3 linked regions of the Homo sapiens genome follow. The protein of the gene in region 2 purifies or fractionates together with the protein of the main gene of each other region. This does not show direct contact. Each region holds a gene or a part of one and is shown on either strand. Other genes may lie near its edges.

Region 1 (3,733 bases), on a different chromosome or scaffold from region 2:
CAGGAATTCAAGATCAGCCTGGGTAACACGGCAAGACCCTAACTCTAAAACTATAATAAATAAATAAACAAATAAAATTTTAAAAGAGTAAGAAACGGTAGTTGCCCGGCAAGGGCAACCCTTTTTATACATAAACATTTTTGTTTTAATCAGAACAGCAAGTAAATGACGTCTTAGGTCTCTTACACCTTTAAAATTCTTTTTATTTAAAAATGTTAAGTAAGACAAATCTCAAAAAAGAATCTATCTGCCTACAACACAATGATTCAAGCAATACCAAAATAAGATATATATATATATAACAGAGGTATAAATTTTTCAAAACCAATCATTATATTTAAATTCTTGGTGCCTTACACTTCTAAAAAAACATGCCTAATTATAATAAAGCTACACACAAAGCATTGTTTTAATTCTAAACTATCTTGGTGTTTCTCATCATTGATGTGGTACACTAAACCCTGGTACCAAAACCTCACTGGATATTTTTAAATACTTCAATTAACATACTTCAGTTTCAACTTTTGTGGCACAAATGTCTTTCGCTGCTTCTTCTCGAGTGTCACATTTACCAACCAAATCCTTGAAGATAGCCAAACGACGTTCAGCATTTTCTTCTAATATCTCTCGTTCTTGAAGCAGAGTCTCCCTTCAAAATACAAATTAATCCCATTAAGAAACAGAAAACGAACTACTTTGTGTTTTTGTTTTAAACATCTAAGTTTAAGTATATTCTAGATTAAAAGAAAATTTAGTCCAGGTACAGTGGTTCACGCCTGTAATCCCAGCAATTTGGGAGGCGGAGGCGGGTGGATCACTTCAGGCCAGGAGTTTGAAACCAGCCTGGCCAACACAGCAACACCGTCTCTACTAAAAACACAAAAATTAGCTGGGCGTGGTGGTGTGTGCCTGTAATCCCAGCTACTCAGGAGGCTAAGGCAGGAGAGGCTAAGGCAGAAGAATTGCTTGAACCCAGGAGGTGCAGGTTGCCGTGAGCCAAGATCGCACCACTCAATACCAGCCTGGGTGACAGCACAAGACTCCATCTCAAAAAATTAAAATTTAAATTTAAAAAAGAGAGAAAATTTAAATAACCATGCATGGGATTAGTTACAGCTATATTCTTTTTTTTCTTCTCTGAGACAAGAGTCTCACTCTGTCGCCCAGGCTGGAGTGCAGTGACACAATCTCAGCTCACTGCAACCTACACCTCCCAGGTTCAAGAGATTCTCGTGCCTCAGCCTCCTGAAAGCAGCTGGGACTTCAGGAACATGCCAGTACGCCCAGCTAATTTTTCTATTTTTAGTACAGACGAGGTTTCACCATGTTGGCCAGGCTGATCTCGACCTCCTGACCTTCAGTGATCCGCCTGCCTAGGCCTCCCAAAATGCTGGGATTACAGGCGTGAGCCACCGCACCAGACCAGTAACAGCTATTTTCAAGCTTGTATAAAGAGATCAGAATTCAGAAGCCACCTAATATAAAAAGTAAACTAAGTAAAAAAAAAAACTAAAAAACTAAATAAAATTCTCAATTTTTACCTGGACATGAAATAAATAACTTACTTAAAGTCAGCTTCCCGTTGAGCCCAATACTGAGTAAACTCCTGTGTAACTTCTTCTCGAATTTTAAATTCCAAGGTTAATTTTTCCTTTTTTTCATTTATCAGTTTTTTTTTCAAGTCTTCTATTAAGTCCAACAGTTTCTATTACATGTAAATGATAAAATTCTTATAAAAGAATAAATATATCCCAAGAGAAATACCGTCCAACTGTTCAAAAAATAAAACTTTACATTTAGTCAATTGTAATTCTGTGTCCTTTTTAATAGTGATAATGTTCTCACTGAAAATTATATGTTTGCAAAGATTTGTTAACTGAAAAATCAGGTTGGCCTTTCCACATTTTAGAAATAGACCTTTGGTAACTCGTCTCACTGTTTAGCTATACTAAGAAAATAAGTAAAGTTAATTAGTGCATTTATTATCTATCAAGAACTACTCTGGGGAGTTCCATATTTGCTTCATTTAATCCACAACTTTCTGTGAGCTTGGTATCATCCATATTTCACAGGTGGGAAGCATAAGGATCAGATCTCTGGTAAATGCTAAAGGTTGAGTTTAAAAGTGGCCTGTAAAAGTCTAAAGCCCAAGGATTGCATACACCAGAGAAGTTGCTAAGAACACCCACTTACTAATCTGTCAAATAAAGATGTTACATAAACTTATATTAGGCTTTTATAACTATCCAGATGTCAACAGCAATTCTATAGCCTTTGAAACACATACATAATCATGAAAAATGTGCAATATATAAATAAAGCAATAAATAAAACACTTAACATGACCATTATACATTCATAACATAAATTGTAGCATTAAGGAAACAGCTACATATTCTTTTTAATGTTTCTATTTAAAGTTACTCAACAACAAATTAAACAATAAACTCTAAGCTACAGATCTTCCAATGTCTCAACTTTATATTTGAAAATAGTTCTACAGCTATCCAGACTTTGAAACTCTGCCTCCAAGAATTTATACTGAAAATAATTATAATATAACCCCATGTTCTGGTTGTATGAATGCTGATCACAGTGTTGTTGTTTTGTGATGGTAGTTGTGTTTAAATAATGAAAAAGTGAACCCAACTCAACCAATGTTAAAGGATTGGTTTAATTATGGTACTACCATAAACTACCGTAATCAATGATAACCTATATTAATAATTCATACTTTTCACAATTTATTTTTATATAAAGAATACCAGGTTACAAAACAGTAATATATAATAAAAATCCATTAACATTCATGGTAGATTTGAGAGATCTTTATATTTAGATTTTCTTTTTCACTCTACTATAAATACATAATACTATTTTAATAATTTTAAACTACATACTTTCTGAGTAAAACAATAAATAATAACTATTGAAGGAGACATCAGAATGAATGTGGAAAAACCTTGGGAAGTTTGTTTATTTTATTTATTTATTTTTTTTGAGACGGAGTCTCACTCTGTCGCCCAGGCTGGAGTGCAGTGGCTCGATCTCGGCTCACTGCAACCTCCGCCCCCCAGGTTCACGCCATTCTCCTGCCTCAACCTCCCGAGTAGCTGGGACTACAGGCGCCAGAAACCACGCCTGGCTAATTTTTTGTATTTTTAGTAGAGACAGGGTTTCACCGTGTTAGCCAGGATGGTCTTAATCTCTCAACCTCATGATCCACCCACCTTGGCCTCCCAAAGTGCTGGGATTACAGGCATGAGCCACCGCGCCTGGCGGGAAGTTTAATAGTTTTCAATAATTAGGTTTTATCATTGTTAGCATCTGATAAAGTTTTTGCTGAAAAAATTTAGGCTGGCTATTACAGCTAAACGAATTTAAGTATATGTATGCTAATACCAAGGTATTTTATAATGGTTTTTAAAAGTCCCAATCCTTTAATTAAAATGTCAAGAAAGGGCTGGGCACATTGACTCACATCTGTAATCCCAGCGCTTTGCAAGGCAGGAGGATTGCCTGAGCCCAAGGGTTCAAGATCAGCCTGGGCAATAGAGCAAGGCCTCATGTCTACAAAACATTTTTAAAAATTAGTTAGGGGTGGTGGCATGCATCTGTGGTCCCAGCTACTCAGGAGACTGAGGCAAGAGGATCACTTGAGCCCAGGATTTCGAAGCTGCAGTGAGCCATAACTACACTATTGCACTCCAGCCTAGGTAACAGAGCAAGACTT
Region 2 (3,500 bases):
TAAGCCTGTTTTATAAGATCTGTTCATTTACTCCTCATTTATTCAACAAGTATTGAATAAATATCATATATGCTTCCTGGGTGCTAAATATATAACGGTGTGCAAAACAGACATAGTCCCTCATCTCATGGAGTAAAAACGACAGGCGGTAATCAAACTGTAACACACACATATATAATTAAAAACTGAAATAAATGTTAAAAACTCAGGAGCTCTAAGAACATAGACTTTTGAGGTCTGATCAAACTTTAGAGGGGAGAGAAGGCTTATCTTGAGGAAATGATGTTTGAATTGAGATATAAAGAATGAGTGAGCCGGGTGCAGTGGCTCACGCCTGTAATCCCAGCACTTCGGTAGGCCGAGGCGGGTGGATCACCTGAGGTCAGGAGTTCGAGACCAGCCTGGCCGACATGGTGAAATCTTGTCTCTATTAAAAATACAAAAATCAGCTGGATGTGGTGGTGGGTGCCTGTAATCCCAGCTACTCAGGAGGCTGAGGCATGATAATCACTTGAACCCGGGAGCCGAGATCGTACCACTGCACTCCAGCATGGGTGACAGAGTGAGACTCTGTCTCAAAAAAAAAGAAACAAGGAGTGCCAAGTGGGTAAGCGTGGAGAGTGTTCCCAGATGAGTGCAAAGAAGGCAGTCCAGAAGGGAAGAGCGCTGGACAATGTCAGGAGGTTGAAAACACCAGGGAAAGTCCAGGGGGCTGGAGCCCAGGGGTGGAGGAGACATGGAAGGAGGAAATGATAGCACTTATAACACACAGGCAGAGGTGGAGCTGGGTTTGTGGAAGCACATGGGTTTGCAAGGTGTCTGAAAAGTGAAGTGAGAAAACCTGAGGAGGGATTGGTGATGGGGAAGGGAAAGAAAGAGGAAGGCATCCAGGATGACCCCCCGGTTTCTGAGAGCAGGCTGGGGGAGGGCATGGAGGCCATATCCTTGAGTTTGGTTTTGGACATAATGAGTTTAAGGGGTCTTTGAGACCTCCATGTAGAAGTCAAGGTAGACTGAAGATATAAATGTGTTGGTCACTAAAGCCACATTCTTGGGGAAACTTCTTTAGGAAAAGAATACAGAACATGAGGAAGCGGCCTTAGAATCTGTGTAATGTCTGGAGAGAAGAGGATGGGTCTGCAGAAGGCACGGAGTGCCAGTGAGGAAGAGGAGCTTCAGGAGAGTGGAGAGGAGCAGAGGCTGAGGGCCCAGGCGGGTTTAAGGAGAGAGTGATCAATAGTATTGCTCACTGCTATGAGCACAACTGAGAAAGGCCTCCTACTTTAATGACGTGGAGGTTACTAATGACCACAGCAGATGATGCCAGACTCGTCTGTGGTGGCTAATTAAAACCACTGTTCTAGCTATTGCAAATGTGTAGACCTAAATAAGACACATCAAACTACAAGAAAAGTTTGATTTATCCTGAAGTGTCTCAACTGGATATCACTGCACTTTGAAAGTATGTTATAGGAAATGCTATAGCAAGATGTCAGCAATGTAAGATCCACAAGTGTCTTACAAACCAAATAATTAAATTATATTTAGTGTAACTCCAATGTCAGTTAATTTTAATATTATCACATTCTTTTCAAAATGGCAATTCTTATATAAAACATGGTGCTAACTAATTAGTAAGACTATGCATTTTGTTATTTTCAATTAGTAGGGAACTCACTGTAGTTACACAACAAGTAAAACTATCTAAAGTGACAATGACCATTTCTCAATTACCTCTGGTCAATCTTCCTCTGCTGCAGCACGTCTTTGATGAGGGCCATTCGCACAAGAGCACTGCCGTTAGAGTGGCTCCAGCACCAGAGCTAGGGGAGAGGTAGAATCCTTACTTCACTGTGTAGAAACAATGGACGTCAGCATTCATAAAATCCAACAGAAATCACTTACTGGCATCCTTCTCCCAACAAAAGAATGGGAAAAGATCTTTAGATCTTGGTCTGCTAAAGAACTTGGCACTACAATGTATTCTGGAAGGCTGGAGGGGAAAAAAAAAATTATATGAGTGCTGTGCTAAAAGCAGGAATAGTGTGCTCCTGCAGACCCTATAAATAATTAAGCAAGTTGTCCGCATTTAATGTGCACCCCACTTAGTAGCCACATGGTGGGCACCATGGGGGGGCAGTGACGATCCTACACCTCTTAGTCTAAAATTGGTGCGATATGACCAATTCTTAAAAATCTAAATTTATAGCATGAGAAAATTCCAAAGAAGGTATTAGAAATATTTTCCAGAATGACTATTAAACATGTATGTGTTCACTGAAAAATATATCCACCTTTGTTCTCTTGACAGGCTATGGTTAAGGACACCAGGCAAACAAAAGAAAACCCCACAAATCTACCAGGAGCTTTAGCTCTCTTCTTAAGTCCCTCTTCTACCTTTCCCCATGCCTAAAAGGCACAGTCAGACTCTAGGACACTGATCAGACAATAATTACTAGTGGGCAAGCTCACTGCACCTCAAGACATCTTCCTTCTTTCCCCGACGTGGCTGGGCAGCCCCATCACATGTTTCTCAGCACATATACCAGAGTGTGCTGGCCTTGAAGCTTAAATTCCAGGGGAAGCAAAAGATACAAGCTACATGCTGCAAAGCACCTTTCTAGAACTGTACTAGAAGTTCCTGGTACTGGATTAACCAGTAATAACACAGTAGTGCTTTTCTTCCTTTTTCTAAAAAGCTGCTTATGTGCGTGAACTAATGAGGACTTCAATGACCTTAAAATAAGGCATTCCAAAAAATTCATAATAACTAAATGACATTAAACAAATTAAAAAAACAAATTCCTAGTCACTTCTAGAAGATCCCCTAGGGAACCAGCTCACTATTTGGAAAAATGTTAAGTAAAGGAGAAAATGTAGATATTTATATTGCTTTTCTTGTACGAACTGTGTTACAGGGCACTAAAGAGCTGGTGAGAGAAAAGTTCGATAAAAGCAGAAAGATGATAGAATTAGAAGGTGAACAATAGCAATCCTTAGTGAAATAACGATCTGAGCAATGATCCTCCCTCCCAGTGCAAAACTATTTTTGGGAGCTCAAACCATGATATAAGAGGGGAACTTTTACTGGGTGGATCAGGTTGACACCCTCTAAGCCCACTGGTCGTCAGGATTACAATGAGAGAGACACAGCCCAGCCAGCCTGAGATGGGATGTGACTCCACAGGAGAACACAGAACCACCTAATGAAACATTCTTGCCAAAAGTACTGAACCTGAATCCGATTAAGCCTCTGTTGCTAACATTTTAAAGGAAATATTAGAGACAGAGGAACACATTACGGGACACCCTGGGGATAAAACAAGCAATATCTACAATGTGGAAAATTCTAGGGAACAAATGACCTGGTTTGTCAACAAATAGTAGGTAAAAAAGAGGTGGGAGGAGACTGTTGTAGATTAAAAGGCCTAAGAGACATATTAAGCAAATTCAATGTGAAGACTTTAGATCCTGATATGAACAAACCAACTGTAAAACAC
Region 3 (3,733 bases), on a different chromosome or scaffold from region 2:
TTTTAGGATTTTTCTGGTTTTGTTTTTTTTTTTGTTTTTTTTGTTTTTTTTTTTTTTGAGATGGAGTCTCGCTCTGTTGCCAGTGCTGGGGTGCAGAGGCGCCATCTCAGCTCACTGCAACCTCCACCTCCCCGGCACAAGCGATTCCCCTGCCTGTCTCCTGAGTAGCTGGGATTATAGGCGCCTGCCAATGGCACCCAGCTATTTTTTGTATTTTTAGTAGAGACGGGGTTTCACCGTGTTGGGCAGACTGGTCTCAAACTCCTCACCTCAGGTGATCCACCTGCCTCGGCCTCCCAAAGTGCTGGGATTACAGGCGTGAGCCACTGCGCCCGGCCTAGTTTTAGGATTCTATGAATTCTAGTACAGGCCTAGTTACTGAATCTTTTTTCTGTTTCTGTTTTTTCCCAGACTGATTCCTCTTTCCACCTTTTAAAATGCTGGTATCTCCCTGAGTTGACAGTGCCTACCTTTTCCATTCTCTACGTCCTTCCTCCAAGAATCTTATAAACTCTCACTATGACTCTCTTGAATTTATTCCATAGCCTTAATTAACTTCACTCTACATCTTTTTTTTTTTTTTTTTTTTGAGATGGAGTTTTGCTCGTTGCCCAGTCTGGAGTGCAATGGCGTGATCTCAGCTCACTGCAACCTCCACTTCCAGGGTTCAAGAAATTCTCCTGCCTCAGCCTCCCAAGTAGCTGCGATTACAGCCATGCACCACCACGCCCAGCTAATTTTTTATATTTTTAATAGAGATGGGGTTTCACCATGTTGGCCAGGCTGGTCTTGAACTCCTGACATCGGGTGATCTGCCCGCCTCGGCCCCCCAAAGTGCTGCGATTACAGGCGTGTGCTACCATGCCCAGCAAATTTTTTTGTATTTTTAGTAGAGACAGGGTTTCACCATGTTGGCCAGGCTGGTCTTGAACTCCTGATCTCGTGATCCACCCACCTCAGCCTCCTAAAGTGTCACTCTACATTCTAAAGCTCTAGTTTCTATTTGTTTCTATTTGTCCCACATGATTCACTAGATGTGCTACCAACCCTTCAAAGATATTGGGCAAACCAAAGAAATTACAGGAAACCAACTTGTCGGTATAATTATTGATCAATAACACAAATTTTAGGGTCAAATGTATCAGAAATTGAATCCTAGTTTTGTCACTTATTAGCTGGGAGACCTTGATCAAATTATTTAATCTCCTGAGCCTCAATTTTCTCACACGTAAAATGGGGTCAAAAATAGTATTTACAACTTACTATGGTTGTTTTTGTTCATGTTATATATAGACACACACAGCTTAGCACAATACCTGGAATATGTTAAGACCTCAATAAATGTTAGCTACTATTATAAGCAATAGCATTACCATCTTTCTAGTCTTACAGGTTTAACAGTGATCTTGGACTCCTATCCTTTTTTAAATAAATTCAATCAGCATTTGTACATTTTCATTGTCCAGTATGATCTCAGTGTACCAGGATTTCATTCCCTCACAGCTTTCTGTTATGCAGCTACCCAACCAGATTACTAGATTTAAAAATATTCGTAAGGCCTCATTTTTGTTTCCTCTACATTACCCAGCATAATGCCTAAAACATAGTAGTTGTGCTATTATTGCACAATTCAAACAATCCTTCCACCCGTCTATCTCCCCATTAGATCCCTTGAGTTCTGTCAGGGCAGGGAGTGTCTTGGTCCTCTTCATACACCAATAACTGCCGAAGTCCTTTAGTCAATAAATGTCTGTTGAATGAATGCTGACCTCTAAAGCTATTGGCTATCTAGCTTCCTCATATACGAAAGGCAGCTCTTATATTCTCTAATCCAATAATTTATTTTGACCAAATTTGTCTCACCACAATATCATCACGGGTAGTTTCACTGTATTAGTCAGGACCTTTTTATCATCAAAAAATTCTGGCCGGGTGCGGTGGGTCACACCTGTAATCCCAGCACTTTGAGAAGCCAAGGCGGGCGGATCACAAGGTCAGGAGATTGAGACCAGCCTGGCCAATATGGTGAAACCCCATCTCTACTAAATATATAAAAATTAGCCAGGCGTGGTGGTGGGCGCCTGTAGTCCCAGCTACTCAGGAGGCTGAGGCAGGAAAATCACTTGAACCCAGGAGAAAGAAGTTGCAGTGAGCCGAGATCATGCCACTGCACTCCAGCCTGGGTGACAGAGCGAGACTCCATCTCAAAAAAAAAAAAAAAAAAAAAAAACAACAACTTTTTTACTCACCTTAAGCAGAAAGAAGAATTTATTAGCTCACATAATTTGAAAGTACAGAGATAGCACTGACTTTAGGCATGGCGGCTGACCCAAAGGTACAAACACTGCCATCAGAACTTCCATCTTTTGGCTCTGCTTCCCACTTATTGGTAACTTCCAGGCTAACATCCTATTGTCTCAGCAACCCCAGGGCTCAAAGCATGCCTCTTTCTCAATAGTTCAACAAAAAATTCAGTTACTCATGTGTGCTGATTGCAAAATGGGCCCACCTCTGAACAATCACTATGGCCAGAGCAATGGACTATATACTGACTGACCATTAGCTAGGCCTGAGTCACTGGCATACCCTATGCCAGGGTGGGGTTCATATAACTGAGAGGGGTGGTTCCCTAGGAAAATTGGAGTACTATTACCAGAAGGGACTGAATAATGGACTGGCAAAATTAACTGATGTCCCTTATACTCTTAACATTTTTTGCGTGCTGTCCACCACTGCCTAAAATAGCTTTCCTTCTTGTTTCTGCTTGCCCAAATCCAAGTTATATCCTTTCTGCTTCAAGAAGTCTTCTGTGATGTCTTCTAAGACTTTCCTTGTCCACTGGATCAAGTCACCCATTCCCAAATAAATATTCCCCTTTTCCAAAAGATTAATATTTTTTTTTCTTTTTTTTTTAAGACAGCACTTACTCTGTCACCCAGGCTGGAGTGCAGTGGCACAATCTCAGCTCACTGCAACCTCCGCCTCCTGGGTTCAAGCGAGTCTCGTGCCTCACCCTCTCAAGTAGTTGGGATTACAGGCACCCGCCATTACACCTGGCTAATTTTTGTATTTTTAGTTGAGACCGGGTTTCACCATGTTAGCCAAGCTGGTCTGGAACTTCCGATCTCAGGTGATCTGCCCGCCCTGGCCTCCCAAAGTGCTGGGATTATAGGCGAGAGCCACCAGGCCCAGCCAGATTAACCTTTCAAAATAAACAGCACAGAAAGTCCCAAGAAAACGTTCCCAATAAGTTCAAAATCATGTCTAATTATAAATATGGGCAATATATGCTGTTCCCTAGGATACGAATTTGAAGGACAACAGCTCTACCATGTACATGCTACACATTATGAAAAAACAGTATGCAAGGCAACTTTTATATATTAGCATTCAACTAATTTTACTTGGCTTTAAATTTTCTATAAGGTCTAAGCATACCTAATAACTACCATAAGTTGGTTCCAAATTAATCAAAGTACCTGCCATAAAAACAGACTATGGCTTTTGGAGTCACCTCAAACTAGACTAAACTCCTGGCTAATACCGTCTCCTCTGTCCTTTAGCCACAGATCTTTGAGCAAATTAGTGAACATCTCTAAATGCTGGTTTCCACCATCTGTAAAAACAGGAACAGCAACACCTATTTCTATATGAAGAGGTTGCATGGTACAGTGGAAAGAACAGAGTTAGATGAACCTGGGCCAAAATCCTACCACTGATACTACATAGTGGT

The links.
Region 1: the proteins of MTMR10 (region 2) and KIF20B purify together in Homo sapiens (affinity purification with mass spectrometry; one large-scale study listed by BioGRID and IntAct). This does not show direct contact.
Region 3: the proteins of MTMR10 (region 2) and LRCH3 purify together in Homo sapiens (affinity purification with mass spectrometry; one large-scale study listed by BioGRID and IntAct). This does not show direct contact.

The regions. Positions count from the first base shown.
Region 1 is NC_000010.11:89,721,936-89,725,668, reverse strand, and holds part of KIF20B (kinesin-like protein KIF20B), read right to left. Parts: intron 1,706-3,733; coding exon 1,566-1,705; intron 650-1,565; coding exon 511-649; intron 1-510. UniProt on the Homo sapiens protein: Plus-end-directed motor enzyme that is required for completion of cytokinesis. Required for proper midbody organization and abscission in polarized cortical stem cells.
Region 2 is NC_000015.10:30,957,129-30,960,628, forward strand, and holds part of MTMR10 (myotubularin-related protein 10), read right to left. Parts: intron 1,994-3,500; coding exon 1,906-1,993; intron 1,824-1,905; coding exon 1,735-1,823; intron 1-1,734.
Region 3 is NC_000003.12:197,794,184-197,797,916, reverse strand, and holds part of LRCH3 (DISP complex protein LRCH3), read right to left. Parts: intron 1-3,733. UniProt on the Homo sapiens protein: As part of the DISP complex, may regulate the association of septins with actin and thereby regulate the actin cytoskeleton.